Linked DNA regions of Homo sapiens: all the other regions are linked to region 3. Evidence: fine-mapped expression QTL. A gene starts in region 3. Each other region holds a variant in brackets. All regions are shown on one strand. Distances are between the middles of the regions. Region 1 overlaps MEP1A (meprin A subunit alpha). Region 2 overlaps ADGRF5 (adhesion G protein-coupled receptor F5). Region 3 holds the start of PLA2G7 (phospholipase A2 group VII). Region 4 has its middle 4.7 kb from the start of MEP1A. Region 5 overlaps MEP1A (meprin A subunit alpha). Region 6 overlaps ADGRF5 (adhesion G protein-coupled receptor F5). Region 7 has its middle 19 kb from the start of MEP1A.

The links. PIP is the estimated chance that this variant, and not a neighbour inherited with it, causes the effect.
Region 1: its variant is fine-mapped to the expression of PLA2G7 in whole blood (TOPMed, PIP above 0.99).
Region 2: its variant is fine-mapped to the expression of PLA2G7 in whole blood (INTERVAL, PIP above 0.99).
Region 4: its variant is fine-mapped to the expression of PLA2G7 in whole blood (TOPMed, PIP above 0.99).
Region 5: its variant is fine-mapped to the expression of PLA2G7 in whole blood (TOPMed, PIP above 0.99).
Region 6: its variant is fine-mapped to the expression of PLA2G7 in nucleus accumbens (GTEx, PIP 0.99).
Region 7: its variant is fine-mapped to the expression of PLA2G7 in whole blood (TOPMed, PIP above 0.99).

Annotation. Positions count from the first base shown.
Region 1 is chr6:46,829,170-46,833,237 of GRCh38, reverse strand. MEP1A (meprin A subunit alpha) reads right to left here. Exons shown (of 14, transcript NM_005588.3): 10 at 3,667-3,882; 11 at 1-164. Among named protein-coding and RNA genes, the nearest start is that of MEP1A, 38 kb to the right of the region's middle. The variant A/G (reference allele first, on the strand shown) is at 2,240.
Region 2 is chr6:46,877,445-46,881,512 of GRCh38, reverse strand. ADGRF5 (adhesion G protein-coupled receptor F5) reads left to right here. Exons shown (of 21, transcript NM_001098518.2): 8 at 1-58; 9 at 1,474-1,695; 10 at 3,108-3,311. Among named protein-coding and RNA genes, the nearest start is that of ADGRF5-AS1, 24 kb to the left of the region's middle. The variant G/T (reference allele first, on the strand shown) is at 2,202.
Region 3 is chr6:46,732,823-46,736,890 of GRCh38, reverse strand. It overlaps PLA2G7 (phospholipase A2 group VII), which reads left to right and starts at 1,516. Exons shown (of 12, transcript NM_005084.4): 1 at 1,516-1,711.
Region 4 is chr6:46,786,667-46,790,734 of GRCh38, reverse strand. No RefSeq gene overlaps it. Among named protein-coding and RNA genes, the nearest start is that of MEP1A, 4.7 kb to the left of the region's middle. The variant A/G (reference allele first, on the strand shown) is at 1,952.
Region 5 is chr6:46,805,172-46,809,239 of GRCh38, reverse strand. All of the region lies in intron 5 of MEP1A (meprin A subunit alpha), which reads right to left. Among named protein-coding and RNA genes, the nearest start is that of MEP1A, 14 kb to the right of the region's middle. The variant G/A (reference allele first, on the strand shown) is at 1,801.
Region 6 is chr6:46,862,050-46,866,117 of GRCh38, reverse strand. ADGRF5 (adhesion G protein-coupled receptor F5) reads left to right here. Exons shown (of 21, transcript NM_001098518.2): 14 at 921-1,076; 15 at 3,022-3,230. Among named protein-coding and RNA genes, the nearest start is that of ADGRF5-AS1, 39 kb to the left of the region's middle. The variant G/T (reference allele first, on the strand shown) is at 1,782.
Region 7 is chr6:46,772,383-46,776,450 of GRCh38, reverse strand. No RefSeq gene overlaps it. Among named protein-coding and RNA genes, the nearest start is that of MEP1A, 19 kb to the left of the region's middle. The variant A/G (reference allele first, on the strand shown) is at 2,457.

The DNA.
Region 1 (4,068 bases), 96 kb before region 3:
CCAGACCCCTGTGGGGCAGGGGGTTTCTGTCAGAGTGATGTCATCTAGGTAAATTCCCCCAGTTGAGTTCTGAGGGTCGCCTTTTGTGCCCTGGAAAAGGTAGCGAAACTTCTGTTCCTCTTTGAGCACCACATGGGCAATTTTCCAATTGTGGTCATCATCTCCTGAGGACAGAGAACAAGGCTGGTGAGAACTGTGACCAACACTTAATGAGTACTTATTATGAGTTTGGCACAGTGCCATGTGCTTTCCATAAATTATCTCATTAAATCCTCACAACAGCCCTATAAAATAGGTACTGTTATAAACTGGTTAAGTAACTTTTCCAAAGTTACATACCTAATAAGGAAAAATTGTTTTTTAAAATACTATGATTTATTTTAAAATTCACATTCAAATCTTAACCGTGAATTTGTTTTCCACTATAAGAATCCAGGTTCTGGATTTCCTCCTGAGTTGGCTGGTTCAACTGTAACCCCTAAGGTTAGCAAAGAAAACCCAAGTGTTAGGCTGAATCATATAAAATAGCCATTTTCTAAGCCAAAAGTAAAAAAAATAGTAACTCCATATGGTCCGACCTGTCACTTGTTGCCAGAGAGCTATAAGGAATGCTGAAGAGCAGATAATAACCTGTAGGACTGACTGGATCTTCCCTACCTAAAACTGACTCCCTCTCCAACATCTAGACTTTTTTCTCTTCCTTATATTATCTGAAAGTCCACCATGTAGGGGAGCAAAGTAAGCCAAATAGAGTACTATTGTCTGGAAATGCACGTTCTAATAAAGATTAGGTCTACTTGCTTTTTCTCTGAGCATGAACTAGAAGTGGGACTTTCGAATTAAGAGCTGAGGAAAGATGGTGAGAAGGCCGTTCTAGAACATAGGATCCTGGGTTGAACAGTATAAGAAGCCAGACAGGAGCTTGGGGGTACTGGAGAGAGGAAACTGCGAAAGCAAAGCAACTCAATTCCGCAAAGAGATGTGCCTACACTGATATTTTTGCACAGGGTATTCCCTAGAGTTGGGCTTGAAGAGGAGAGGAAAAATGCTTCCAAGTGGAAGTCATGTTGGCTAAACTGAGTTCCTACAGATGAGTGTCTTTTTTCCTTCTTCTGTGTCTTTTAACCAGATATCTACTTATAGAACTATACTTTCCCTGAAAAGGAAAAGACCTTTAATCTCCCTTGTGTTTTCAGGCCATTCTCTCTAAGTACAACTTCAAGGGACAGGTCTAACAATGTTCTGTTTCTTAGGGTGGAGCTGATTATGGCCTGTGTGGTTAGGTTACATGGGAACACAGGAGAGAGGTAGGTTACATGGGAACACAGGAGAGAGGTAGAGAAGGCACACGACCACCTCTGTAACATACAAATCTAGGCAGCTGCCCTCTCCTGCGGAGAGCATGGCAGCCTAGTGGAAGACACATGGACTTGAAGGGTAATAGGTGCCAGAAAGTCTAGGAATAGGAACAGAGATATAGGATTTGAACTATTTATCCAGCAGGTTATAGATCATGGGAATTCTGTCAAGAGAATAGGATTCTGTTCTTGCTGATTAGTACCTGCTTTGTTTTTTCTTAATATAGGATGTCAAAATGAGGTTGAGATGGGGGAATCTGGCACTGGGAAGGAGACCCAAGAGGCTATACCACATAGGCAGAAATTCATCTATGAAATTATTAAGATGGTTTCGTTTACATGCTTCCACAGGGCTGCCCTAAATCAGTCAGGCAATAATGCTACTACGATTGTTTGAGACAAATTTAATCCCTGTTAGTTCAGAATTGTCTTCTATAAGGAAGTCCTGGCCTCAGTAAAAACGTGTGTGTGTGCATGTGTGTGTACATACACATAGTTGTATGCCAACATTTTTCATGTAAGTTTGTATATAAGCATTATGTATGTAACATATATTATATACAGATATGCATATGGAGACATTTTGTGTGTAAGTGTTTTGGTCAAAATATACATTTTGCAAAACTTAAAAGCTATTCAAATTGGTTGCGACTGTCTTAAGTTGAATATCACATAAACAACACTAAGTGATATTCAACTAACCTTTTTGAAAAGTTTCATTGACAAACCAGTATCAGAACAGACTACTTAAAAAAACCTTTCATACAGTGTTCCCAGGGAACGTACACAGGCATACTCTGAATTCAATGAAACACAAAGCACAGCAGTGTAAGAAACTAAATTAAGCATAGGATGTTTGCTTGATTGATTTTATGCTTAGA[A/G]GTAACGCTTTTAGCTTTAGATGAAAGTGAGTGATAATAGGTCCCATCAATATTATTGAAACTCTAACTCATTTTCTCATTAAATATTTACAATCCTTGGTAACATAACACATCCTCAACTCTTAAAGAGTATCTAGCTGTCATCCTTTTATCATATAAACTATAATAAATTTCAACCAGAAAAGTGAACCCCTCAAAACTGTGATTTGTAGAGTTCCCAGGCAGCCCACAGAGTGGCTTGGATATAGGCGATTTGGGCACCTGTTCTTACAAGTGACCTCTAAGGAAGGTTTCTTCTTCAAGAGCAGCAGATATATAAAAAATAATTCCTTTCCCTGGACTCATTTCAATTGATAAATTAAATGCTAAGGTAGGCAGTTGGATGCTAGGATAATCTGGCCATAAATCAAGATCCAGGGTTATAAACAAAGTATTTGCTTTCTTTTGTTATGGTGGTGGTTCATTCATAACTAGGAAAAGGGAGACAGGCTTTCTTACTTTTCAACAAAAATTTCTCCATCTATAATCATTTACATGCTGACCTTCTTATATAAATATACAAAGTGACACTTAGGAACATGTTAGTGATTATAGGAAGTTAACATATACCAATGACTTATTTGCCACCAACTTCACAAGTAGGCTTCAAGTTACTTCAGCATATTAAATAATGGTATCATTTGTTTTTCTGAAACAGATGCAAAACACTTTGGTCAATTTTTTTTTTTTTTTTTTTTTTTTTTTTTTTTTTAGATGGAGTCTTGCTCTGTCACCAGCCTGGAGTGCAGTGGTGCAATCTTGGCTCACTGCAACCTCCGCCTCCCGGGTTCCAGCAATTCTCCTGCCTCAACCTCTCAAGTAGCTGGGACTACATGCGCGCGCGCCACCATGCCCAGCTAATTTTTGCATTTTTAGTAGAGACGGGGTTTCACCATGCTGGCCAGGATGATCTCAATCTCCTGACCTTGTGATCCACAAGGCCGCCTCGGCCTCCCAAAGTGCTGGGATTCCAGGCGTGAGCTGGTCAACTATTTAACTACTCTCTCTCCCGCAGCATCAATTCGCACAGGTCTTTTACCTTCTTATCTCCACTCCTGAACCATCCATTTTCTCAGTCTTGGCCTTTGCTTTCTCTAAATTTCCAGTGAAAACTGGATTTGTATATTCTGATTGGCTTCTTACAAAAGTATATTTCATCCCTACCTAAGCCCAAGATACTGCTTCTAATTTCTCAGTGGTTAAAACATTCATAGAGTAATTAAAACATGCCATATATTATGATAGGCTCTGAGAAGAGAAGAAAGTGGGTGGAGGAAAAGGAGGAGGAGAGAGAAGAAGGAGGAGTAGGAGGAAAGAGGGAAGGAGGAGAAGAAGCAGGATCCCGGATTTTAACCCAATCCATTCCTCGTGTGAATGCCTCTAAGTACCTTGAAAAGTCTGCACCTTCACCAACTTGCGAACATTGCCTGTGCTGTCATCCCTCCTGACCCAGACAACGAGTCTGTCTGAAGGACTTCCCGTCATTTTATAGAAAAATTGCAGGCACTGCTGCTTCCTCTTTGGGTAAAGAATCCGAGACTCCAGTAGGGCTGCCTCTTCCGCGGACCCCGAGCTGGTGCTGAACTGCATGAAGTAGCCGGCACCTATGGAAAGAGCAGCCAAACATCACACGTCTGGCTTCCCACACCCCAGGGTTCTGTCCACCCAAACAAAGTGAAATAGTGAACCACAGCCATTGTCCAGGCAACAAAAACTAGAACTCTTCGGAGGAAAATAAAAAGAAGGACATTTGTCAGTAAATATTCTCTGTCTCAATGGACTTAGTCACT
Region 2 (4,068 bases), 140 kb before region 3:
CAGAGCCTCAATCAGACCTACAAAATGGACTACAACTCCTTTCAAGCAGTTACTATCAGTAAGTGAAATTGTTTAGATATGGTCATGTTATTTATGGTTATGCGTAAACCTAGGAAATTAGTTTATGCTACAATGTCCTCTGGGAAGCTAGACACTCCAGTTCCTGGCACAGGGGGTTCTGTACCACCTCCTCCTCTTATGCCAGTGCCTCCCAATCTGACTAATGCCACTGTACCTGGGGTGTGTGGAAAAGGGGCACAGGGATTTACAAGGGGGCCACAGAGCCATCTGGGTTTGTGTATAACAGATCCAAAACTAAGTAAAAAAAGTAAAACTAATATCACAGTGGAGGTTTAAATATTCACAAAATGCACCAATAAGAAATAGAGGGCCATTGTTTTAGAGCAGTAGGCCTCAGAGTGCAGCCCTCTGTCATCCCGGCTGGAGTGCAATAGTGTAATCATGGCTCTCTACAGCCTCTACTTTCCTTGCTCAAGCGATCCTCCTGCTTCAGCCTCTAGGGTAGCTGGGGCCACAGGTGCACACCTCCATACTCAGCTAACATTTTTTTTTTTATTATTTTTTGTAGAGATGGGACCTCACTATGTTGCCCAGGCTGGTCTCATACTCCTGGCCCCAAGCAAACCTCCCACCTTAGCCTCCCAAAGTGTTGGGATTACAGGCATGAGCCACCATGCCTGGCTGTGTTTTTATTTTTATTTGTGAAATGATAAGGCAGTGATCCCATGGATTTTTACTGCCAAAACAATAATAAGAGCTACAGTTTCTCCAAGTCACCTCCCAATGTAACTCTCTCTTGCTGCTCCTGTTTTCCAGACAGTGGAACTAAGGCTCGGCCAGACTAAGCAAGTTCCTCAGGGCCACACAGCTATGGGTGGGACAGAACCAGGATTCAAATCCAAACTTACTGTCTATAAAGCTCCCACTCTTAAAGAGGTCCATGAGTATTAGGAAATTCTTATTTCTCAAGCAGACTTTATTATAATTAATTAATTTGTTTTTACATTTCTAAATCCTTCAAGACTTAGGTCAGAGCTTTCAATAAGCTTGAGATATTGGTTACTGATAAGAAGCAGTTGATATTATTCCAGTGTGTAGCACAGAAACTTGGTATTTAAGTTTGTTTTTTTTTTATAAAAAAATGTGCAATTTTCTACCACACTTTTTGAAATATTGAAAATAGCTTTAAAATCTCCATTACTGCCGTTAAGGAGCCATAGGGCAAACACCCCAGTCGGGAAACCCTGTCCCTGGCATGTGGCAGGACATACCTCCTCAGGGCTCAGACACCAGCTGCATGGGAATGGAGTGAGGAGACACATTGCCTCAGCCAGTTCAGCACCACAGATGCTGTCAAGATCTCCAAGAGCCTTGTGGTGGTTGTGTGTGGTGAGTAGCATCAGTGACATTTATTTGCTTTGGGATCTTATTAACTTTTCTTTGGGTTTCCAGATGAAAGCAATTTCTTTGTCACACCAGAAATCATCTTTGAAGGGGACACAGTCAGTCTGGTGTGTGAAAAGGAAGTTTTGTCCTCCAATGTGTCTTGGCGCTATGAAGAACAGCAGTTGGAAATCCAGAACAGCAGCAGATTCTCGATTTACACCGCACTTTTCAACAACATGACTTCGGTGTCCAAGCTCACCATCCACAACATCACTCCAGGTGATGCAGGTAGGTCTCCATTCAGTAACTTGTGTGAGGAATGGAATGAAGAGCTTATAAAGAAGCAAATATGTAATAGTGTTTTACGTAGCTATGTAGATAGTGTTTTTCTCTTCCAAAATAAGTCTCCTGGTTCAACCTTTCAAAACTGAAAATTAATCCGATATGTATTAGTCCATTTTTACACTGCTGTAAAGAACTACCTGAGATTGGGTAATTTATGAAGAAAAAAGGTTTAATTGACTCACAGTTCTGCATGGTTGGGGAGGCCTCAGGAAACTTACAATCATGGCAGAAGGCAAAGGGGAAGCAAGGCATGTCTTGCATGGCAGCAGGAGAGGGAGAGAGGGTCTGGGGAATTGTCAAACATCTGGTTTTAAACCATCAGATCTCATGAGAACTCACTCCCTATCATGAGAACAGCATGGGGGAAACTGCCCCCATGAGAAAATCACCTACCACCAGGGCCCTGCCTGAACATGTGCAGATTATAATTCGACATGAGATTTGGGAGG[G/T]GACACAGAGCCAAATCATATCACCGTGGTATTAATTGTTAATTAATTTTAAAATTCATTATTTTCATTATTTGTTTTATTATAGTATATAATATAATTATTTTCATTATTTTGTTTTAGTATATAATATTACTTTATTATTAATTTAATTTTCAATTGATTTTTAAAAAAATTTAAAATAGCTTTGTTGAGGAAGGAATTGATATATAATAAACTGTACATATTTAAAAAGTCTTGACACACGTGCACCTGTGAAATCATTACTACAATCAAGAGAGTGAACGTATCCATCGTTCTCCCTGCCCTCACCAAATTTTCTGGTTCTCCACTGTTATCCCTCTCTTCGGCTTTCTCCTGTCCTCTTGCCCGCTCCAAGCAACTACAGAAGCAAGCATAAGGCTTAATTCTTCCCTAAGACTAGTGGTGAACCTGACATATTCTGGAATGTAATAGCCGCATTGTAACTCAGATGCCAATGGGGCCATCTTCTTTTCTCTGCATGATGAGGTGGGCTATAGACATATGGGTCCTATCACATAGTTGTTGATTTTGATTTACAACATGGTTAAATACTACGGCAATATTACCCATCTTTTTCTAATTCTCCAAGGCTTTTCGATTTTTCTTTTCTACTTCTTCTATTGTTATACTTTTTTTCTTATTAGAAAAGTCCCTAAAATTTCTACTATTTCCTTAGAACATCTCTGTACTCCACTTTGTGGCATGAGAAATATCTGCACTTCCTGAATTCCTGAATGGTTTTTTAGGCGTCTTTAGACCAAGTCTCAGATGCTTTTGAAAATGATACTTCATGAAGTACTGTCATGATCCATGAGCTGACGGTACATTCCTCTAAGAAAATACACATGTGTTATAATAATACATGATTTTGTGTATTTTATGCAGGTGAATATGTTTGCAAACTGATATTAGACATTTTTGAATATGAGTGCAAGAAGAAAATAGATGTTATGCCCATCCAAATTTTGGCAAATGAAGAAATGAAGGTGATGTGCGACAACAATCCTGTATCTTTGAACTGCTGCAGTCAGGGTAATGTTAATTGGAGCAAAGTAGAATGGAAGCAGGAAGGAAAAATAAATATTCCAGGTGAGAATGTTAGATAAGCCCTTTTGCAAATAGGTTTTTGCCTCTTGGCCAAGTAGAAATGGGAGATGTGGCGTATGGAAGGGGAAATGTCAGATGGCTGTTATTTTCTGGATTTCAGACTGTGAAAAGGCATTAGGTTTGATGCCAGCTCCAGCTTAGCCACTCTAGAACAAGACCCCAAAAATATATGCACACAAGTGTCGTGCTTTGGTTGTAGATGAGATCCCAGCAGCAGAAGACCCAAGAAATTAGGATCCCGATGACTTAGGTCGATGGCATTTTGGATCTAAAAAAAGACAAGAAAAGCTTGTGCTCACCTTCCTTTCATCTTCAGCAAAGAGCTAAGGATGAGGTCATTTGTCATTGAGGTCTGACTTGGAGCTTCTCCTTTCTGTGTCTCTTCTCCTGGTGTCTGGTCCTTCTCACTTCTCTGCCTTTGTATCTATGCATACCTCAATATTTTCTATCTCTGTGCCTCCAGCTTTATCCCTCTCTCTCTGCAGACCTGTTTGTCTCTCAGTCATTTCATATGATTTCTGATCCTGTTAGCTTTTGTTTTCAATCTGAAATCTTACCTAAAGTTCCCCACCCTCCAGTTTATATTGATGAATAATAATAATGGTAATAAATTAAAACAGCAATACTGACTCTGTTTTGTATAACAGTTTATGATTAACCCTTTAAAAAATATGTTACTGCTTTTAAATTGCTTGACCACAAATTTGAAGCATTTTACTTCCAATTTGCAAATAAGGAA
Region 3 (4,068 bases):
TTCAAATTTCACCAGATGTTCTGCATTTTTATTTGCTAAATCTGGGCACTCTTCACTGGGCATCTTCTCAGGGCACTAACCTGCCAAATGCCAACTGCTGTGGGGCTGCTCAGAGAATATGACCTAATGACAATGGGAGATGACATGTTGCTGGCAATGAGAGAAGTGAATAAAATGTTGCATACTTGTTTTCAGGAGCTGTTCTCAAAGCTTACCACCTTTTTAGTGTGGGATTAGGTCTTCAACTTCAACTTTGTCTTCACCTTTGTCTTAAGGTCAAAAGAAGACGTTAGAGATGTCTTTGGTAGGGCATAATGTATCCTTTTAGATTGATATTTGTGGGCCATTTGTTTTACAGGGGGTTAGTCCAGGAAGTACAAGACAATGTCATTAGGCGGATAGAGTTCCATTTAAATTAAAAATAAAATCTATTGTTAGGTTTAAATGAGTCACTGCTTCATTAAGCTATCAATATTAGATAACACATATTGAATGAATGTTTCCCATAGGCCAAGCTCTGTCCCAAGCATTTCACATGTATTTGCATTTCGTGCTCACAAACTGCCTCTGACTGACTGATTTTGATTTTCTTGATTTTATGGATGAGGAGACCGAGAAGCAGAGATGATGAACTTCCCCAAGGTCACACCACTCATAAGTGGGAGAAACAAGCTAAAATTCAGGCCATCTTACTGCAGAATACTCAAAATCAAAATAAGCAAAATTTCATCTCCAGTTCTGGCACCTCACCAAAAACCAAAACACGATTTAAAAATATAAAATTTTAATAACACCACACATAAATTTCAAACTACTTTCCCTAAGTTTCTAGCTGAAGTTTTAAATGAGTGTGTTTTTAATTTATTAGAAAGTGGATTGAAGAGAAAACATTGGAAGATGAAGGAAGGCGTTTCAGTTAAACCCCAAATAACTCTGTGTTACACTGAGCTATGAAACGGCTCCTTCTAGCTCCATTTCTCCTCAGACCTAAGTGCTATTCCTGATTGTCCTTCATTGTCATTTCCAGGGAGAAATGACACCAGCACAGTGGCAGGCCTTCCAATCTGGAGCACGGTCCACACAACTTCCGAATTGGTGTTCAGTGTAAAGTGTATCGGAGTGCGGAAAATGCGCAGGGCATTGCCAACTATAGATGCTCGGAGTAATTCAGTGTATTCAGAGAACACGGTGAAACAAGGAAAACCGGCCTGACTGGGGGGTGAATTCAGCAGGGAGTAAATCTGATCGGCATCAGGTCTGCGGAAAGGAGCTGGTGAGCACGACACCACCCAGGCATTGCCTGGCTCTCTCCGCGGCGGGCTAAGTTAACCGCGGGTCCAGGTGCGGGCCATGGTCTTGGGGAGGGTGCTGGGTGCGCTCGAGCAGGCTAGCGTCGGGAGCCGCCGCTGCTAGTGAGAGGCCGGGGCCACACACGCTCCTCCCCGGTACCTCCTCCAGCATCACCAGGGGAGGAGAGGGTCGGGGCCACAAGGCCGCGCTAGGCGGACCCAGGACACAGCCCGCGCGCAGCCCACCCGCCCGCCGCCTGCCAGAGCTGCTCGGCCCGCAGCCAGGGGGACAGCGGCTGGTCGGAGGCTCGCAGTGCTGTCGGCGAGAAGCAGTCGGGTTTGGAGCGCTTGGGTCGCGTTGGTGCGCGGTGGAACGCGCCCAGGGACCCCAGTTCCCGCGAGCAGCTCCGCGCCGCGCCTGAGTGAGGAGGGGCCCCGGGGGCGAGGCGGGAGTGGGAGGAAGGGCACGGTCGCCGCGCTGGAGGTCGGGACCCCGGAGCGGCGACCGGCCGGGGTGGGCTCGCTGAGTCGCACCCGCTCTGCTGGCCGGTCCTGGGCTCACAGTCCCTGCAGCCCTCGGAAACAGCGCTAGGATCCTTGCGGGGAGAGGGAGAGGATGACGGTATTAGACACCAGTTCTTCCAAACCTTTTCCCGAAAGGAAGCAACCCTAAGAGCTCAGAGCTGGGGGGAGAATCAGGACAGGCAGGGAACACATGGAGTTTTCTTTTCTTTTTTTTCTCTCTCTCTCTCTTTCTTTCGTTCCTTCTTTCTTTCTTTTGAGGCGGAGTCTCATTTTGTCGCCAGGCTGGAGTGCAGAGGCGCGATCTCGACTCACTGCAACCTCTGTCTCCCGGGTTCAAGCAATTCTCCTGCCTCAACTTCCCGAGTAGCTGGGACTGCTGGCGTGCCGTATCACGCTCGGCTAATTTTTTTGAATTTTTAGTAGAGACGGGGTTTCGCTGTGTTCGCCACAATGGTCTCGATCTCCTGACCTCGTGATTCGCCCGCCTCCGCCTCCCAAAATGCTGGGATTACAGGCATGAGCCACCGCGCCCGCCCCGGAGTTTTCTTATCTGTAGATCTCCTACAGGGACAATCTCTCTCTCCGTCTCTCTCTCTCTCTCTCTCTCTCTCTCTCTCTCTCTCTCTCTCTCTCTCTCTCTCTCTCTCTCTCTCTCTCTCTCACACACACACACACCACTACACACCTCTCACTCTGCCTCCTCTCTCTCTCTCCCTCCGCTCTCTCTCTCACACACCCTTCTCCCTCTCTCCCTCTCTCTCACTCTCCCTTTGAGGAGTATTGCGTTTTTGGAGCCCAGTTATGCGTGGCTGCTGTAAGAACAAAACAAAGCACTCTTTGTCCTACCTGGAGCATCCCCCTGCCGGCCAGATAAGATCACAGCTGTGTCACCAAGTCAAGGGAGAGGCTCATTTTTAAAAAATTAAGCAAAATCAGAAAACAGAGAACACTGTCTTCCTCATCATCTCCTGGAGCTTGTAAGAGAAATTTCTGTCACCAAAAACGAAAAGTTCGGGCTTTTATTCATGCCTGTGGTTCTTGGGATTACTGCAGTGGTGATGAGGAAGGAGAGGTGCGTATGGCTCATAAATGGCAGCTTGCCACCTTTAAAAGGCACACGGATTCAGATTTGGGATGTGTTAACAAATCAGGCTTGCACAAATTACTTTTGATCCAAATGAGAATGCTGAGCTGGGAGACTGGTATATGGGTAGGAGCTGGAAAATGTATCCCCTGAGGTGTTGGCAATCCCAAGAGGCTCAGCACGAAACCTTGAGCTTACATTGAATTCAGAGATCTGAGCATTAAGCACTGGCCTGATCAAGAAGAAGCAGATGGCCTTCTGGTCACGAGGCACTGGTGAGCCTCCATCACCCAGGCAGATTCCCTCACAGAGGAATTCTGCTGGCCCTGCAGAAAGTGGTGAGACAGCGCACCACCTTGGCATTTTCCAGCAGGCCTACTTCAGCTCCTTGCACTTGGGCACTGAAAGTGCTTTCCCCTCCCCAGATATTTGTGCACCAGAAGCTGCTGCTGGCCATGTGGTGATGTCTCAATGTCTTTCTTCATTGAACTGGGCCCTTCATACCCAAGGCTGGCACCATAGTCTGTGACTGCCTACTGTACAGCCAGCAAGACTGAAGGAGTTGCAGCATTAGGAGTGTTGTGAATCTGGTTCAGCCACTCATTTTACAGTTGAGAAATCCCTTCTGAGGTGTGGAAGGGCTTGCTTAGCACCGCAGGACTTTTCCCTCAGACAGAACCTGGGACAGCTGGGTCCTCATTTCCTCTCCATTGTGTCTCTGTCCCCTTTGCACTTTTGTTGTGAGGAACATACATGGGCCTAAACACATTCCCTCACTCTCACCTTTGCACATGAATATGACTTACCACACTCTTTGAAGCTCTGTCAGCACAGAACATTAAGAAAAGTGCTAACTGGGTACCTGAGCAGCTGGAGTGGGAGCCCCTGGGAAAGTCAGTTTAGGAGTCCCCTTTATCTTCCTTTTCCTGATACCCAAGAAGATGGCTATTTCCTGGAAAGGAAGGTGGATATTGGATTATTTACACTCTGATTCCTCTTAAGCCTAATTTTTTTTCAAGATTCGTGATAATAAGCCTGACTGACGTCTCAAGATGTTGAGAAATTTCCATAAAATAAAAGCATTGAAGAGAAAGTACTGAGTGAAGGGAAATTGAAGAGAAACATTCAGTTCTAAAATTGTATTGTTTCAGAATATGATTCTGGGTTCTT
Region 4 (4,068 bases), 54 kb before region 3:
ACCTCTACCATTGACTAGCTACAGTAATTTTAGTACCTGCTTTTTATGTGTAGAATGGATAGTGGTGCCTACTTCATGGGGCCAATGTAAAGATTCAATGAGATAACATATGTAAACCACAGCTACTAGAAACATAGGAAGCACTCAATAAACTGCTCCTTCTACCTGCTAGTTAGCAACTGCCTCCTAGCAAAACATGGGCACTAAAAACACAGCTCAGCCCACTCCTTGCTCAGTAGAATCTCCAGTGATGAGAACATAGGTCTTCAGCAGACACAACTTGCCCCCAATTATTTTATTGTCACAATCTTAATGGCAGATGTTAATTAGTTACCAGCTATTTGCAATCCTAGTCACTTCTTCATTGTGTCAGGGTATCAAATGAGTAAGGCTGGGGCCTTAAGTCCTTCATTTGAAGGGTTTATGGCTTTTCAGTTTAAAGAAGATTATGCACTCTGTGGTCAAGGTCCATGCTTTATTTCCTGTATTTGCCCCAGTGTTTGGAAACATAGTAGGTAATTAGTTCTCATTTTAACTGAAAAAAGTAAATAGAAATTTCTCTGAAGGTATCGGATGGGGTGACTTGCTTTGATCTCAGGAAGGGCATTTCATAAACTGACCAGTTGAGAAAGTGGTCTGAAGCTTAGAGGAAGAAAGCCATTGACAGGTAGAAAATGGAAAAACCCGCCCCCAGCTATTTCCACACACTCTCCAGCTTCATAAAAGCTCAGGCAAGGAGTTGGGCTAAGAGACTTGCAAAGTCCTCTCACCCCAAACCCTTCTCAAGGATGTTCTCTGCCCTCTTTCTACTCTATTGCAAGATGCTGATTCCTTCTGCTTCACTCACAGAGTTCTGCCTTCAACCAGCTGTCAGCTAACCTGAAACACAACAGTCCTTGTTCCTCCCAGGGCAATCAACATATTAACAGGGGCCCAAAGGTGTATAGAGCAAGAGTCGGCAAACTGTCTGTAAAGGGCAAAGAGATATATGTCAAGCATTGTGGGCCATATGAGCCCTGTTGTAGCTATGTAACTCTCCTGTTGTATGTAGCATAAAGTAGCTGTAGACAATAATGTAAAGGTGTGAACATGGCTGTGTTCCAATAAAACTTTATTCACAAAAACAAAGCAAAGGGTCATAGTTTGCTGACCCCTGGGTTTTAGAGAATAACCCTCAAGGTGGTGGAAATTGAGACGGTGATAATAATTATAACAGAAGCAGTAGCAGCAACCAACATGTACATAGTACTTACTGTGGGCCAGGCAGTATTCCAAGTATCTAAGGGTAATTATCCATTCAATCCTCACAACAATCCTACGAAGAAGCAACTATTATTATCTCCATTTTATATATTAAGAAACTGAGATGAAGAAAAATTAAGGAACCTTCTCAAGGTCATGCAGATCCTGAACAATGCTCCTAAATTCCACCTGAGAGGCAGTTCTTTACACCTATGTCTGGCCTTTGACAGCCCAGGAGTGAGGCCTCCACCATTATGCTGTAGCATGCAGACCCCTGGTTTCACAGGGTTCCATCTCTAACAGTTTACTAAGAAGAATTAACCCTGAGGGAAACAGTTCCCAAGCTATAGATTCCTTCAAAATCCTCTGGATGGTTTGTTGAGGTACAAATTTCTTGGCTTGGAATTTGGAAATCCTGACTCACGTCAAATGGTGAGTTCCAGAGATCTGCATTTTTAATAAGCACCCTTGTGACTCTGATGCAGGTAGTCTGTGGAACACACTTTGATGAACAGGACACTGTGGAATTTGCATCAGTCAGATGCTTCCACTCTCACTGTGGTTATCGAATAGCTTTCCTCTGATTCCCTTTGTATAAGAAAATCAAAAGATCATAGAACCTTCAGTTTCCTAATAGGGAATACATCAGATGTTAAGAATTCGAGAGATCATCAACACAGAAGTCCATTTCAGAAGGCCTCCAGGAAAC[A/G]GCCCCTCTGCAGTGTGGTTTGAGGACCTGCATTTTTAACAAGCTTGGGGGTTATTTCTATATGGAAAATGTGAGACCTGCTGACCTGGGCAGGCAACTGTGTTTTGGAGTGTGTACAGACACCAATCCCAATTGGTGAGGCAAGGGGTACTTCTTACTCAGCTGGGCACTGAGGACCCTAATAAGCCACTCTTTAGGGCCAGGTGGGCATTCAATGGATTTGGTTCCAGCCTTTTCTCTTTTATAGAACCCAAAGAACACATTGTTATCTTTCTCTTATGACACAAGGAAGAATCAGACAAGCAGCTTACTTTATGTTTTCCCAATTCTCTTTCTACTTATCGAACCCTCATAAAGTATTTAAACTGAAGCCAACTCAGCTATGAGCTACAAGATTGTCCCCTGATTTCAGGAAAAGTCTCCAACCTCTGCTAATTAGAGGGATTATCGCTGCTCACGCGGCCTAGTTGGACTGTGACATCTGGGAGAGAATACTTAACACATGGAAATTGTTGAGTGAAGGGAAGACACAATTGAGCTGGACTTTTCTCTGAAAGGAAATGTGATTCCTATGAAGAAGTTTTTCTACTGCTTCTGAAATAAGGGTACAAGGAAACAGGCTTAAATTGCAAAAGGGACACTTGATCGTTAGCTGTGAAGACCTTCCAGGGCATCTGAGGATTCTTGGATCCTAAAGTATTTTAAGAAGGGAGACAATGTTAGTCATAGAAAATAGTGCCATGGCTGCAGGCTGGGTGTGAGGCAGCCACAGACAGATACAATTCTTCAGATAGGGGTGGTATTGGAGAAAGAATGGGTAGGGCTTGGTTTGGGGATTTTTTGTTTGTCCTAGAAAAGTCATTCAGTTTTGAGGTCTTTTAATGGAAGCAAGATGATAGTAAGTTACACATGGAACTTGATCCAGACAACAGGAGGTTTAGCCATTTAAGAAAATAAATAGTATCTGTAATCCCATTTCCCTTTGAAAATGGCAAAATTGTTTTTGGTGCAGCTGATTCTTTTATGCAAGTGGACAACAGCTCTGTTTAGGGCCAATTGCATTATCTGCCACTTTAACAGGAATGTCAGTTGAAGTAACAAGGGGAAGGTGATAGGAGGCCTATTGGGGGCATTTTTGGAAATTCTCAGAATAATCGATCAAAGTTGACAGACTGGCAAAGGAGGCTTCCTGAATTGGTAGCAGGTGAGATTATACTCATATTCTGAATCAAATTTTAAAATATAAATTTACCTTCTAATTGCCAATGATGGGAGTGTGAAGACTGCAATGGCAGCCACTTTCTAAAACAATGTCACATATTACACTAATAAGGACAGCTTTGCACAAACATGCAAGCCAGAGTGTCAGTCACCGATGACCTGTGAGTAGAAGTGTTACATTTCTTTACATACCAGGAAAGGAAGAAAGCTTTTAATAGCTACACCTTGGTTTTTCAGTTGAATTTCTGGGAACAGGAGTTTGCCAACCCCCATCAAAGTTCCATAGCTTGAATAGCATTTGTTCTTATTAAAATAATAGCAATTATTATAATACCCAGAGAAGTTATTAGGTGCTTATTACATGGCAGGCACTGTGTAAAGTGTCTTACATAGGTTATCTCATTTAATACTCACAATAATCACATAAGATAAGAATTGTTTCTCTCAGTTTATGAAAGACTGAGCTTAGTCTAGTGCTCAGAACCTGAAAAAGGTCAAAATAGAGAAATTAGCTAATAATGTGTTCTTTTCATAGGTCAGTCTCCATTCTCAGTTGATTAGCTAAACCAATGTATTGACGCATGTGTTCATTCATTCATGCATTCATTCATAAAATCTTTACTGAGTGCCTCCCCTGTGCTGAACATTGTATTAGGCACTGGGGAAACAGTCGTGGCCCAGACAGACACTGTCACTGCCCTCATAAAGATTACATAAAGATGGGGGAGGCAAGTACCCACCAGCGTTTTAGTAGATCCCAAAGTAAAGGTGGGTCAACAGGTAAACAGATGAACAAGCTGTGATATATTCATATATTCCAATAAAATTCTACTAGAATAAAATACACAACAGAATACTGTCACCATGGAGTACTACTCAGCAATAAAAATAATTGA
Region 5 (4,068 bases), 72 kb before region 3:
AATTAGTTGTGGGCATAAACATTAAGTGCATACCTTAAATGCACAATGCAAATATGTCTACAAAATAAGAATATACACATGTGTATATGGCTAAATAAAATAATAAAATAACTTCCACACTTTCTCCCTTTGCCTTTCCCCCACTGAAGCAGAGATTTAGAGTGCATTGCCTCAGGAGAGTCACATGGCAGAACAGAAAACAGAAGTGGCTTGTGAGTAGCTCTGGCTTTAGTTGACATAGATAAAGTACCTTAGAGTGAGGCAGTGAGAATAGTGTTCCTTACCCCAATCTAAAAAGACATTCTCTCTTTCTGGAGGAGGAAAGCAGAACTTAGAGAGGTTTGTGGGTTCTGAAAGCATAAGAAGCACATACGGTATTTTACCCTGCTTCCCAGCCAGATGCCTGGGAGATGGCAAGACTAGACAGCTAGTACTGCACAGAGCCTTAGAAGAGATTTCTGTATCCCGAGCTCAGCACCCAAGCAGCAGAAGCCTAATGGACTTGAAGGGGCAGGAAAAATAGATACTGACTAGTAACCTGTGGGGACCAATGACCAAAGATCAAATGCCTTTCCTTTCACCTAGCATGCATGCACTTTGGCATTGTAAGACAAAGATGGGGTAGAAAAGAAAGATACTCCAGAGAAACTGAGATTATGTTTTACTTTGTGTGCATTTTACCCTCCCATCAACTCATTGAAGGTTAGAATCTAAGTTAAAAATTAAGCCAAGTTATATAAAATAAAATTACATTTCTTGCACATTTGATTTAGTGCTTTCTCTCAAAGAGTTTATATCTATTGGCCAGGAAATTACATCACATTTTCTGGCCTTTATTTCATTTAATAAACTATCAAGTTGGAGACTCCACAGCCTAAATGTCATATAATGTCATATCAAGATCATTAAAGAAATAGTCATGGGAATAGTCAATAAACTAATTGTGGAAACTACACAGATAACAATAACAAGAGCATTCATTACATCTGCTGGGAGATTTTCATGTACTTTTACCTATTCTTACTTAGTTACATCTGTAATATGAAGAGATGTACCCAAGGTAGCTGTGGTGTCACAAAAATGTGAGAAAAAAAAAGTGATTATACTGAAAGCAAGCTTCCTAGAAGGCTATTTCGCTTTTGTTATTCTCAATCCAAATGGTGGGATTTCTGAGAGTGATTAATTTTAAAATTATACCTTTTCTTCCTTCTCCATACCTAAATAAGCTGTAAAGAGGGAACTAAGCAACTCTGTAATAATTTTGTAAAAACTACCTCAACATTATTGGGATAAATGGAAACAGAGCCCATTTGAAGTCTTTCTCTTCTCCATGAAGGCAACCCTGAGTGCTCCTCCTCTGAATGCAGGAGCCACATTTGACTGATTTATTTCCTTTCTTCCTTTCTTTCTTTCTTTCTTTCTTTCTTTCTTTCTTTCTTTCTTTCTTTCTTTCTTTCTTTCTTTCTTTCCTTTCTCCCTTCCTTCCTTCCTTTCCTTCCCTCCTTCTTCTGTTTTCCTCTTCTTCTTCTTGTTTTTTCCTTCTCCTCCTCCTCCTCCTTCTCCTCCTCCTCCTTCTTCTCTTCCTCCTCCTCTCCTTTCTCCCTTTCCTTCCTTCTTTCCTTCCTTCCTTCCTTCCTTCCTTCCTTCCTTCCTTCCTTCCTTCCTTCCTTCCTTTCTTTCTTTCTTTCTTTCTTTCTTTCTTTCTTTCTTTCTTTCTTTCTTTCTTTATTTCAGATGGGGGTCTCACTTTGTTGCTCAGGCTCGACTTGAACTCCTAGGCTCAAGTGATCTTCCTGCCTC[G/A]GCTTCCCAAAGTGCTGAGATTATAGGTGGCCAAGGCTTGAGTTGTCTTTATGTAGGTGGTTTGCTACACTTAAGATACTGTTAGCTCCTTGAGAGAAAGGGATATACTTTTTGTCTCATTGTAACTCTTGTTCCTAGCCAACTGCCCTGACATAGTAAGTTGTACATAGTTCTGTGTCAAACAAGTTAGTTTTGAAAACCACTAGCATTCCTTTAACCTTGGATCAAATAATATAAGAAGAGTTAACTTTATTTGTTCTTTTTTTTTCTTTTGAGAAGAGTTAATTTTAGATACCAATGGCTGTACGTATTAGAAGATAAGCATAAGAAGGCTACCTAGATTCAGTTTAGGAATTCCTTTGAGAGAATTTCTGGTGCTCAAAATTGTCAAGGAGCTTGAATCTAATTAATCCTCCCACAGATAACAGTTGTAAACTTGAAAAAATAAGAAAATAAACTCTTTAAATATGCTGGAAAATGGCTAAAACAGGCAGAAACTGGAGGACTTTTTCTTAAAAGAAGGAAAATTTCATTGGGTAAGATTCACATTTATACAGCTTTTTGCATGAGGGCACGCTCTAATTTCTTCAATGCAAGAAAGAGAACTCAAGTATAAATCTACAGTTGCATTTTCTTAACATACCACAAGGACAAGTTTGGGGCTGAGTTTTAACCCGAGTGGCTGAAAATCAAGGGAGAAAGTCCTAGAAAGGAAAGTCATGGTAGATGAAGAGGAGATTCATCCCAAAGTCTGTATATAAGTGCCCCTTCAATCCTTGTCTGACTCATGAACTTTGCATAAATGGGAGAAGGCTCCAAGCCCCTCAGTAGGTAGTAGCCATTGGAAGGCTGAGCAACCTGAACAGATACATCAGTTGCTGCCCACTGCAGTGGAGGAAGAATTTGGAGTTTGAGTCATGCAAATTTACAGGGGTTGGGGAAACTCGGGCATTCCATTGAAATCCCAGAAGGACCATGACTTAACAGTAAAGACTATATTCCAGAACTAAGAGATTTGCCTTGAACTAAGGGCAAGACCACAAAATCCTCCACAAATTCCAGATGATCATGCAGTAATTTAACTGCTCTAACAAAAATTAACACAATTCAGAGGAGAATGAAAACACGCATAATCACTACAATGTAACACAATGTCTAATATATAATCAAAAATTATGAGACCTGTGAAGGAACAGGAAATTGTTATTGATAGATATTAGTAAAAGCAATAACTAGAAAGAGAAACAGACCCCAAGGTGACTAAAATGTTAGACTTAACAGACAAACACTTTAAATCTCTATTGTATACTTGTTACATAATTTAATGGAATAAAGATGAACATACAAATAATCTCAGCAGACAAATGGGAATTATATAAAAGAACCCAATGAAAATTCTATCAGTATTATATCAAAAATAAAAAATTCACTGGATAATTTTAAAAGCTGACTGGCGATGGTAAAAGAGACAGAGAGAAAAATGTTCAGAAAAATGAATAGCGCTTTAGTGACCAATGGGAAAAAAATCACCCAGTCTAAGATATGTGCAGTTAGAGTCTCTGATGGACAGGAGAAACACAGAAAAATATTTGAGCAAATAATGGCCTAACGTTTTTCAGATTTGGTTATTTAAAAATCACCTTAAAGACAGAAGAAACTTGGTGAGCCCAAACAGGATAGATAAAAAGAAAATCAGCATAAGCATACCATAATCAAGCTGTTATAAAAACAAAAATAAAAAGAACGTATTGAAAACAACTAGAGAAAAAAGACATTACATACAGGAGAACAATAATATGAAAGTTTGAAAGATGGATGATTTATTATCAGACACTGGAGACAAGAAACAGTGTATCTGGAGCAAAATATTTGCAAAATATATATCTGATAAAAGACATATCCAAAATATATAAAGAACACTTAGAACTCAATACTAAATAACAACTCAATTTTTAAAATGGGTTAACAGAGCAGATATTTTATAAGGGAAGATATACAAATGACCAATGAGTAACTTTAAAGGAGGTCAACATTACTAGTCATAATGGAAATATAAATCAATAAATTAATAAAATAGCACTAGATGCCCAACAGAATGGCTAAAACTTTAAAAATTGACAACACCAAATGTTAGCAAAGGCATGGAGTAAACGAAACTCACGTACATTGTTTGTGGTTGTATAAAATGGTACCAGCACATTGAAAGAGGTCTAACACTAAACCTACACCTATACTATAACCCAGCAATTTTATTCTTATTTACACCAG
Region 6 (4,068 bases), 130 kb before region 3:
AGCAAAAAAAGAAAAAAAAATCAAAGTCTCTCTGGTAGATGGTGCCCTTAATCCAGATCCCTAGGGATTCCCAGAGATTAAGGTCAACCAGCATGATCTCACAACCCAAAAATCTCAAAACACAGACAACTTCATGAGGGATTTACAAGCTCATTCATTTTTTCAATAACTATTCTGGAGGGCTTACTCAACGCAAGACACCATAGTAGGCAATGAAAGGGAGAAAAAAGAAGTGGGGCACATATTTTAATATCTAGAAGGGCCCATGCCCTGAAAGGCAATGCATATAATATAAAATATCCAAATAGAATAATACAGACTAAAAAAACAGTAGAAGTTCAGAAAAGTGGGGACTCAATAAACACTGTAGTCTTTAAAGAAGGCTGCATGGCAGAGGGATATAATCAATCTGGATTTTGACATATGCAGCATTTCAACATTCTGTGTTTAATATGCATACATTCAGTGCTTTCTATGCACCAGATACTGAGCTGAGCACCAGGAGATGGAAAGATAAATAAGACAAGGTACTTTCTCTCCAGGAGCGTATGGTCTAGTAGAGAAGACAAACTCATGAATAGGTGACTATATACCAATATGGTAAAGGCAGAATAGGATAAATGCTCAGAGCATGATGAAATTTAGATAGGGAGAAGGATTTGTGGAATGCTGAAAAGGCATTCTGAATGTCAAAAATGTGTGACTTGGAGTCATGAATGGTAGAGGAGAAGTTTTGACTAGCACACATGCAAATGTGGGCTTACATACTTCAAAACCCAGAGGTAAAACCTGTTAAAAATGAATGTGGCACATTCCTCGGGAAAGCTTGGACAGGTTTATTCATATTAGGTTATCTTAACACAATTTGTGCATTAGAGACTCATGTTGTGACTTAATTCTTTCAATAATTCTGTCTTCAGCAAAAGAAGTTAACAAAAAACAAGTGTGCTACAAACACAATTTCAATGCAAGCTCAGTTTCCTGGTGTTCAAAAACTGTTGATGTGTGTTGTCACTTTACCAATGCTGCTAATAATTCAGTCTGGAGCCCATCTATGAAGCTGAATCTGGTTCCTGGTAAGAACGTTTTAAATTACTTTAAGATGTTATAGTCAGGGCAGGGACTTATTTATTTATTCACTCCCTCATTCATCCCCATTCAATAAACATATGTTAAATACCCTCACTGTGGTAGGCCCTGGGCTCACCATAGTGGTATTTAAAAGAAAAGAAATAAGCCATGTCCCCTGGCCTCAAGCCTAGGGAAGAAATCTATGTGATAAAAAAATGTTATTGGCCGGGTGCGGTGGCTCACGCCTATAATCCCAGCACTTTGGGAGGCCGAGGTGGGCAGATCACGAGGTCAGGAGATCAAGACCATCCTGGCTAACACGGTGAAACCTCGTCTCTACTAAAACTACAAAAAATTAGCCAGGCATGGGAGCATGCACCTGCGGTCCCAGCTGCTCGGGAGGCTGAGGCGGAAGAATCGCTTGAACCCAGGAGGCGGAGGTTGCAGTGAGCCAAGATCGTGCCACTGCACTCCAGGCTGGGCGACAGAGAGATTCCGTCTCAAAAAAAAAAAAAAAAAATTATTACATGTAATACAGTAAGAGCTAAATAGAAATGTTGTGGGTGGCTTAGCTCTGCTAAAGGAGTTTACCAGGTGATTAGAAGTGGACAGTATCAATGTGGTTGAGGTCCTTTGGGGTTTCAGCAAATGAAAGGTGTCCACACTGCACTGTTTTTCTGAGACAAGGCTACATGAAAACAATTAATCTC[G/T]AGAATAGGCAGCTGCCTTTCCCATCCTTTGCCACCACTGAGTCAATTTGCCATCACATAATATCTTTGAGGTGAAAGTTCATGTTTTACAGAGTCATTGCTATGCTAGCCCATGTTGGGGAGCTCCCCTCAGCAGCAGGGAAGGATAGATCATCCTAATACAAGGTCATCTTAAGGGAGAATCTTATGTTAAGACAAGGGGTAAATGATGACCCTGGGCTTCTACCATAAGCAACTCCTCATCCTCTTAAATCTTCCCAGCAACAGGACTTGTGATAGACAAAGGATCGTTATCACCAAGATTGTTTGAGTTTACTGAATAGTTTGTGGTCATTCTCACATGTTGGCAACTAGCCCCTGGGCACCAAAACAGGAAACAATTTAGAGTCACTTTCACCTGACCTTTCCACGCACAAGTACAACCCCTCCAGGGTGCAGCAAAGGTCACCTCTTCTTTTCCCCATCACTCATCTTAGCCAACACATTTTATTCACTTATCTTTGTTCTTCTCCTCTTTCTTTATACCAAATATGGTTTCGCTTCTTTTTCCTAGTAGAACATTACTTATTTAAGATTTATATACAGTGGTTAAGATCTTAATGTTAAAGAAAAGTGTTGGTGAGGGAGGGGTCTCATCAGAGTCAGGGTCCACTGGACATGAGAGATTCCACAGCAAGTGTCATTTCCCCATCCTTGCCTGGTCATGAGAAGAGGTGAAATAGAATCACCTCTAAGGGAAACCAGAAGGAACAAATGCTTAAACATATTGATTAGAATATTCAGGTCATGGGTACCTAGAGTTCCTACTAGCAATTATGTCTTTGGATTATGGCAGTGATTCTCAACCTTGACAGCACACTGGAATCACCAGGGAGGCTTAAAAACCTGCTGATGCCTAAATCCCGCTCTGACGATTCCGATTTACTTAGCCCAGACACTGGTGTTTTCAAAAGCTTCCCAGATGATTCTAATATGTCACAGTTGAGAATCTCCAGATGAAGGTATAAAATTCTGTTAGGAAAAGGAAGTTCCGATTACAGAAGTCAGGTTCATGTGGAAAGCAGAGAGGGGCTTTGGAAAATCAAGGGCAAAATTAAGAAATTGGGTAGTTCTGAAAAGGTGACGGAAAGTAAAGGTAAATGTGAATTCAAACATCAAAATTCTACCTTGGCCTGACCGTATTTCTACTATATTGTCTCTTCCTTGCAATTATCCCTTTATTTCAATGTTTCCAACACAGGGGAAAACATCACATGCCAGGATCCCGTAATAGGTGTCGGAGAGCCGGGGAAAGTCATCCAGAAGCTATGCCGGTTCTCAAACGTTCCCAGCAGCCCTGAGAGTCCCATTGGCGGGACCATCACTTACAAATGTGTAGGCTCCCAGTGGGAGGAGAAGAGAAATGACTGCATCTCTGCCCCAATAAACAGTCTGCTCCAGATGGCTAAGGTGATCCTTAAAGCTTCCACTCTGAGCTCTTGGTGGGGCGATCTATCTGGCTGATCATATTTCTCAGCACTTAGGAAAATGGGTTTGGTGCTGCTTTGTGTTGCTCCAAAACTACTTTTATTTGTGTATTTCCAAAGGAGATGCAACCCTAGAAATGCAAAAAAAAAAAAAAAAAAAAAAAAAAGCCTCAATTCAAATACTAAGACAACTAAGTATGTGTTCTGCTCTCAGACCGACTAGATACCTTAACCTTGACTTCTCAGTACCATGTGTTCCATACCTCCAGGGGGCAGCGGTATTATCCTCTCTCTTATTGCTCTCCTTTGAGTAATTTTGATACCAAGAAAATTGCTATAATCCTTTCAGAAAAAGGAGCAATATAAAAAAACAAGCTTCATCAATTTCTTTAAAAAAAATAGCTGGGCTTGATGCTCTTACAGGTATGAAATTTTCTGACTACTTGGAAGTAACTTGTGCTTTTGAAGAAGCAACTACCCTGCCTCTCTTACCTATAATAGAGGTTACCGCTATGTAACAGGGCAGAAGTTCCTTTCCTTCTGTCAATGTAAAAAAATGGGACCTCCACACTTGATTTGTTGTTAGACTCCTAAAATTCCATGAATTACATTAAAAAATTCTGGTGATGCAACTGGTGAGGTTATAGGTAATGATGACATCTTCAGACAACCAATTCCAAATCCTCTCACCACTGGGTAAATAATTGAAAAAAAGGGTAATACTTATATGTGTTTCATCTAATTAACTTCTATCTCTTCTCTTGTCTCACACCAAATTTATTAAAATCTCTACTATGTGCAAAGCATGATTATAGGTGCTG
Region 7 (4,068 bases), 40 kb before region 3:
CTTGAGAATCAATAAGAAGCTTTTATGCATTTTACTTTATGCTTTTAATACATGATTCTGATAAGTGGTCTGCAAGATTCAGCAGGCAGCCAAAGGAGTCCATAGTACACAAACCCTAAGAATTTACCTTGCTCAATGAATATGGCAGGAAGTATATCTTCATCTTCACTCACAGTGCTTAACACATTGCTGCTGTGCAGTGAGTCTTTCTTGAGCAGAGCGTGAGATGGAGAGGCCGTGGTGGGTCCCTGCCACCCAGAACCTCACATTGCTGAGCACCTGATGCCAGGCACTGTGTAAAATGCTGTGGAAGCCTTGTCACTTCATTCTCACATTGACAATCCTGTGAGGAGGGATTATTATACTCCGCAATCACAGATGAGAAGTTTAGAGAAGTTACGCAGTGTAACCAAGGTTCAACAACTCTTTGATCAGGCTGACTTGGGAATCCAAGCCTTTACCTACTGTGCTGCCTCCCTGTGGCATTGTGTCTGGAATTTGTGGGTTCTTGGTCTCACTGACTTCAAGAATGAAGCCACGGCCCCTCGTGGTGAGTGTTACAGTTCAAGGCGGCGTGTCCGGAGTCTCTGTTCCTTCTGATGTTCAGATGTGTTCGGAGTTTCTCCCTTCTGGTGGGTTCGTGGTCTCGCTGGCTCAGGAATGAAGCTGCAGACCTTCGCGGTGAGTGTTACAGCTCTTAAGGCAACGCGTCTGGACTTGTTCGTTCCTCCCGGTGGGCTCGTGGTCTCCCTGGCTTCAGGAGTGAAGCTGCAGACCTTTTCGGTGAGTGTTACAGCTCATAAAAGCAGTGTGGACCCAAAGAGTGAGCAGTAACAAGATTTATTGCAAAGAGCAAAAGAACAAAACTTCCACAACGTGGAAGGGGACCCGAGCGGGTTGCCACTGCTGGCTCCGGCAGCCTGCTTTTATTCTCTTATCTGGCCCCACCCACATCCTGCTGATTAGTAGAGACGAGTGATCTGTTTTGACAGGGTGCTGATTGGTGCGTTTACAATCCCTGAGCTAGATACAAAGGTTCTCCACCTCCCCATCAGATTAGTTAGATACAGAGTATGGACACAAAGGTTCTCCAAGGCCCCACCAGAGCAGCTAGATACAGAGTGTCCATTGGTGCACTCACAAACCCTGAGCTAGACACAGGGTGCTGATTGGTGTGTTTACAAACCTTGAGCTAGACATAAAGGTTCTCCAAGGCCCCACCAGAGCAGCTAGATACAGAGTGTAGATTGGTGCACTCACAAACCCTGAGCTAGACACAGGGTGCTGATTGGTGTGTTTATAAACCTTGAGCTAGATAGAGAGTGCCAATTGGTGTATTTACAATCCCTGAGCTAGACATAAAGATTCTCCACGTCCCCACCAGACTCAGGAGCCCAGCTGGCTTCACGCAGTGGATCCCGCACGGGGCTGCAGGTTGAGCTGCCTGCGGGTCCCGCGCCATGCCCTCGCACTCCTCAGCCCTTGGGTGGTCTATGGGACTGGGCGCCGTGGAGCAGGGGGCGGGGCTTGTCGGGGAGGCCAGGGCTGCACAGGAACCCACGGAGGCGGGGGAAGACTCAGGCATGGCAGGCTGCAGTCCCGAGCCCTGCCCCTCGGGAAGGCAGCCAAGGCCCGGTGAGAAATCGAGCACGGCGCCGGTGGGCTGGCACTGCTGGGGGACCCAGTACACCCTCCGCAGCCGCTGGCCCGGGTGCTAAGTCCCTCATTGCCCGGGGCCGGCAGGGCCGGCCGGCTGCTCCGAGTGCGGGGCCCGCCAAGCCCACGCCCACCCAGAACTCCAGCTGGCCCGCAAGCGCCGCACGCAGCCCCGGTTCCCGCTCGCGCCTCTCCCTCCACACCTCCCTGCAAGCTGAGGGAGTGGGCTCCAGCCTTGGGCAGCCAGAAAGGGGCTCCCACAGTGCAGCGGTGGGCTGAAGGGCTCCTCAAGTGCCGCCAAAGTGGGAGCCCAGGCAGAGGAGGCGCCGAGAGTGAGCGAGGGCTGTGAGGACTGCCAGCACGCTGTCACCTCTCAGCATCTCTTACCTAGGTTGCTCCAGAAGTCTCCTACTTGGTCTCCCTGCCTGCATTTTTGCCCTGTTCCAATATGTTTGCAATACCACTATGTCACAACCAACTTTACTTAAGGCCTTCCAGAGGCTTCTCATTGCCCTCAAGGTACCATCAAACTGATATGCCCTGGGCATCTGTGACCGGGCTTCATCTGCTTTCTAGGGTCACTAGGGCCATCGCTTCCCCCTCCCTGTCCCAGATCCCTCACATACACCATACTCCAGCCTTGCCAAACTTGCTTTGGTCTCTCAAACTTGGCATAAATTCTCTTCGGTCTGGGCCTTCCTAAAGCAGCTCCTTGGCCTAGTGTGTGCTCTCTCCTCCTCTTCTTCTGCTTAACCCAGCCTCCCTTTTAGTTTTCTGTTCAGATACCACCACCTCCTCCA[A/G]GAGACCTGAATTCTTCTGGTCTGAATTCTTCAGACTACATTATGAGCTCCAGGTAAGGGCTCCTGAGATCTTTGGGCCTCCCCTTCACATTCCATCCCCCTTTACTGTTTTTGTGAGTTAACTTATTGCCTTCTCAGCTGCATGGGATCTAGCCTATCTGTCCACTTTAGGGTGAGCACCTGGCACCTACAACAGTGCTTGGCACATTAAGTGTGCCTAATGTATATTTGTTATATGACTGAATAGATGAGTCATTGAGACACCTACTCTTAAGAACTCATCTGTTCATTTGCATGAAATGTCCAGAAAAGGCAAATCTATAGAGACAAAACGATTAGTGACTGCCAGAGCATGTGAGTGGCAGCTGGGAGTGATTGCTAATGGGCAGGAGAGATCTCTTTAGGGTGTTGAAAATCTTCTAAAATTGGTTTGTGGTGGTGGTTGCACAACCATATGTCTACTAAACATCATTGAGTTATACACTTAAAATGAGAGCATTTGATGGCATGTAAATTATTCTTCAATAGAACTGTTTTGTAAAGGAACTCATCTAGCCTTTGCTGGCTCCTTGGCAACCAGTTCCACAGATTGCTCTGATGGCAGAAAAGCCATCCCAAAAGCTTACATAGCTTAACATTTTTATAATAGCAATAGGGGCCAGACCTCATGTTTCACTGTTTCACACACAACCTTGACTTCTCAGTGGAAAGTATTTTGCTACCTTAGATTCTTCAGGATCTGCAGTCATCAAGTTTCATGGAACCTGATAAGGAGGCTCAGAGTCACATGGCTGAGGGAATTCCAGTACTGAACATTAAAAAAAAAATCTTTGTAGCTAAATTTACTTGGAGACTAGCACAATGTGCATGGGTGTTAGATAAGGCCAGAGAAGTGTCTTGAGTGTGACCAGGCGAGAAATAGGAAGCCAACTTAGAGAGCAGAAGCTGTTCTCTCTAATTTCTGAACCCCTGCTGCAAAGTTGCTAAACAGTCACATGGTTCCTAGTGGGTGGAAGGTCTCTGATTTCTCTTCTGCAAATGTGGCAAGAATTTAGAGTTCCCCGGCCCAATAAGAGGAACATGTGTGGCCACAGGCTGGCCTTGGGACTCCAGTTATATCCTGGAAGGGAGCTTCTTCTTTGCCTTGGTTTTGTCAAATGACATGTGACAAGAAATGGTTTGCTAAGAGACTGCTGCTGTACTTATAATGTTCCCACAAGCCATGCCAGAGTGCCCAAAGAGAAAAATTCTAGTACCCCTCAAGTCCAAGATTCCTGGAGAGCTCACGGCTTCTGCCCCAAAGTCCTTTGGTCTGATGGAATCTAGGACTACCCAAATGTTGAGAACAGAGTGACAAAGCCAGCAGGGGAGAGAATTCCTGAGCTGTCTCTTAGTGAAATTTGCTCTTTTGCATAGGAATTATTGGTGATGCCTGATTGCCCTATAGTTGTTACATGTGATTTTATAAGATGGGGGGAACAATCCTCTGGAGGGAGTGTGGGACGGTGGACAGATGACTGGACTAGAACACAGAAAACCCAAATTCAAATACTAATTCTACAACAAATCCGCTATGTGAGCTTGGGGAAATCACTTTTCTTCTCTGAGCATC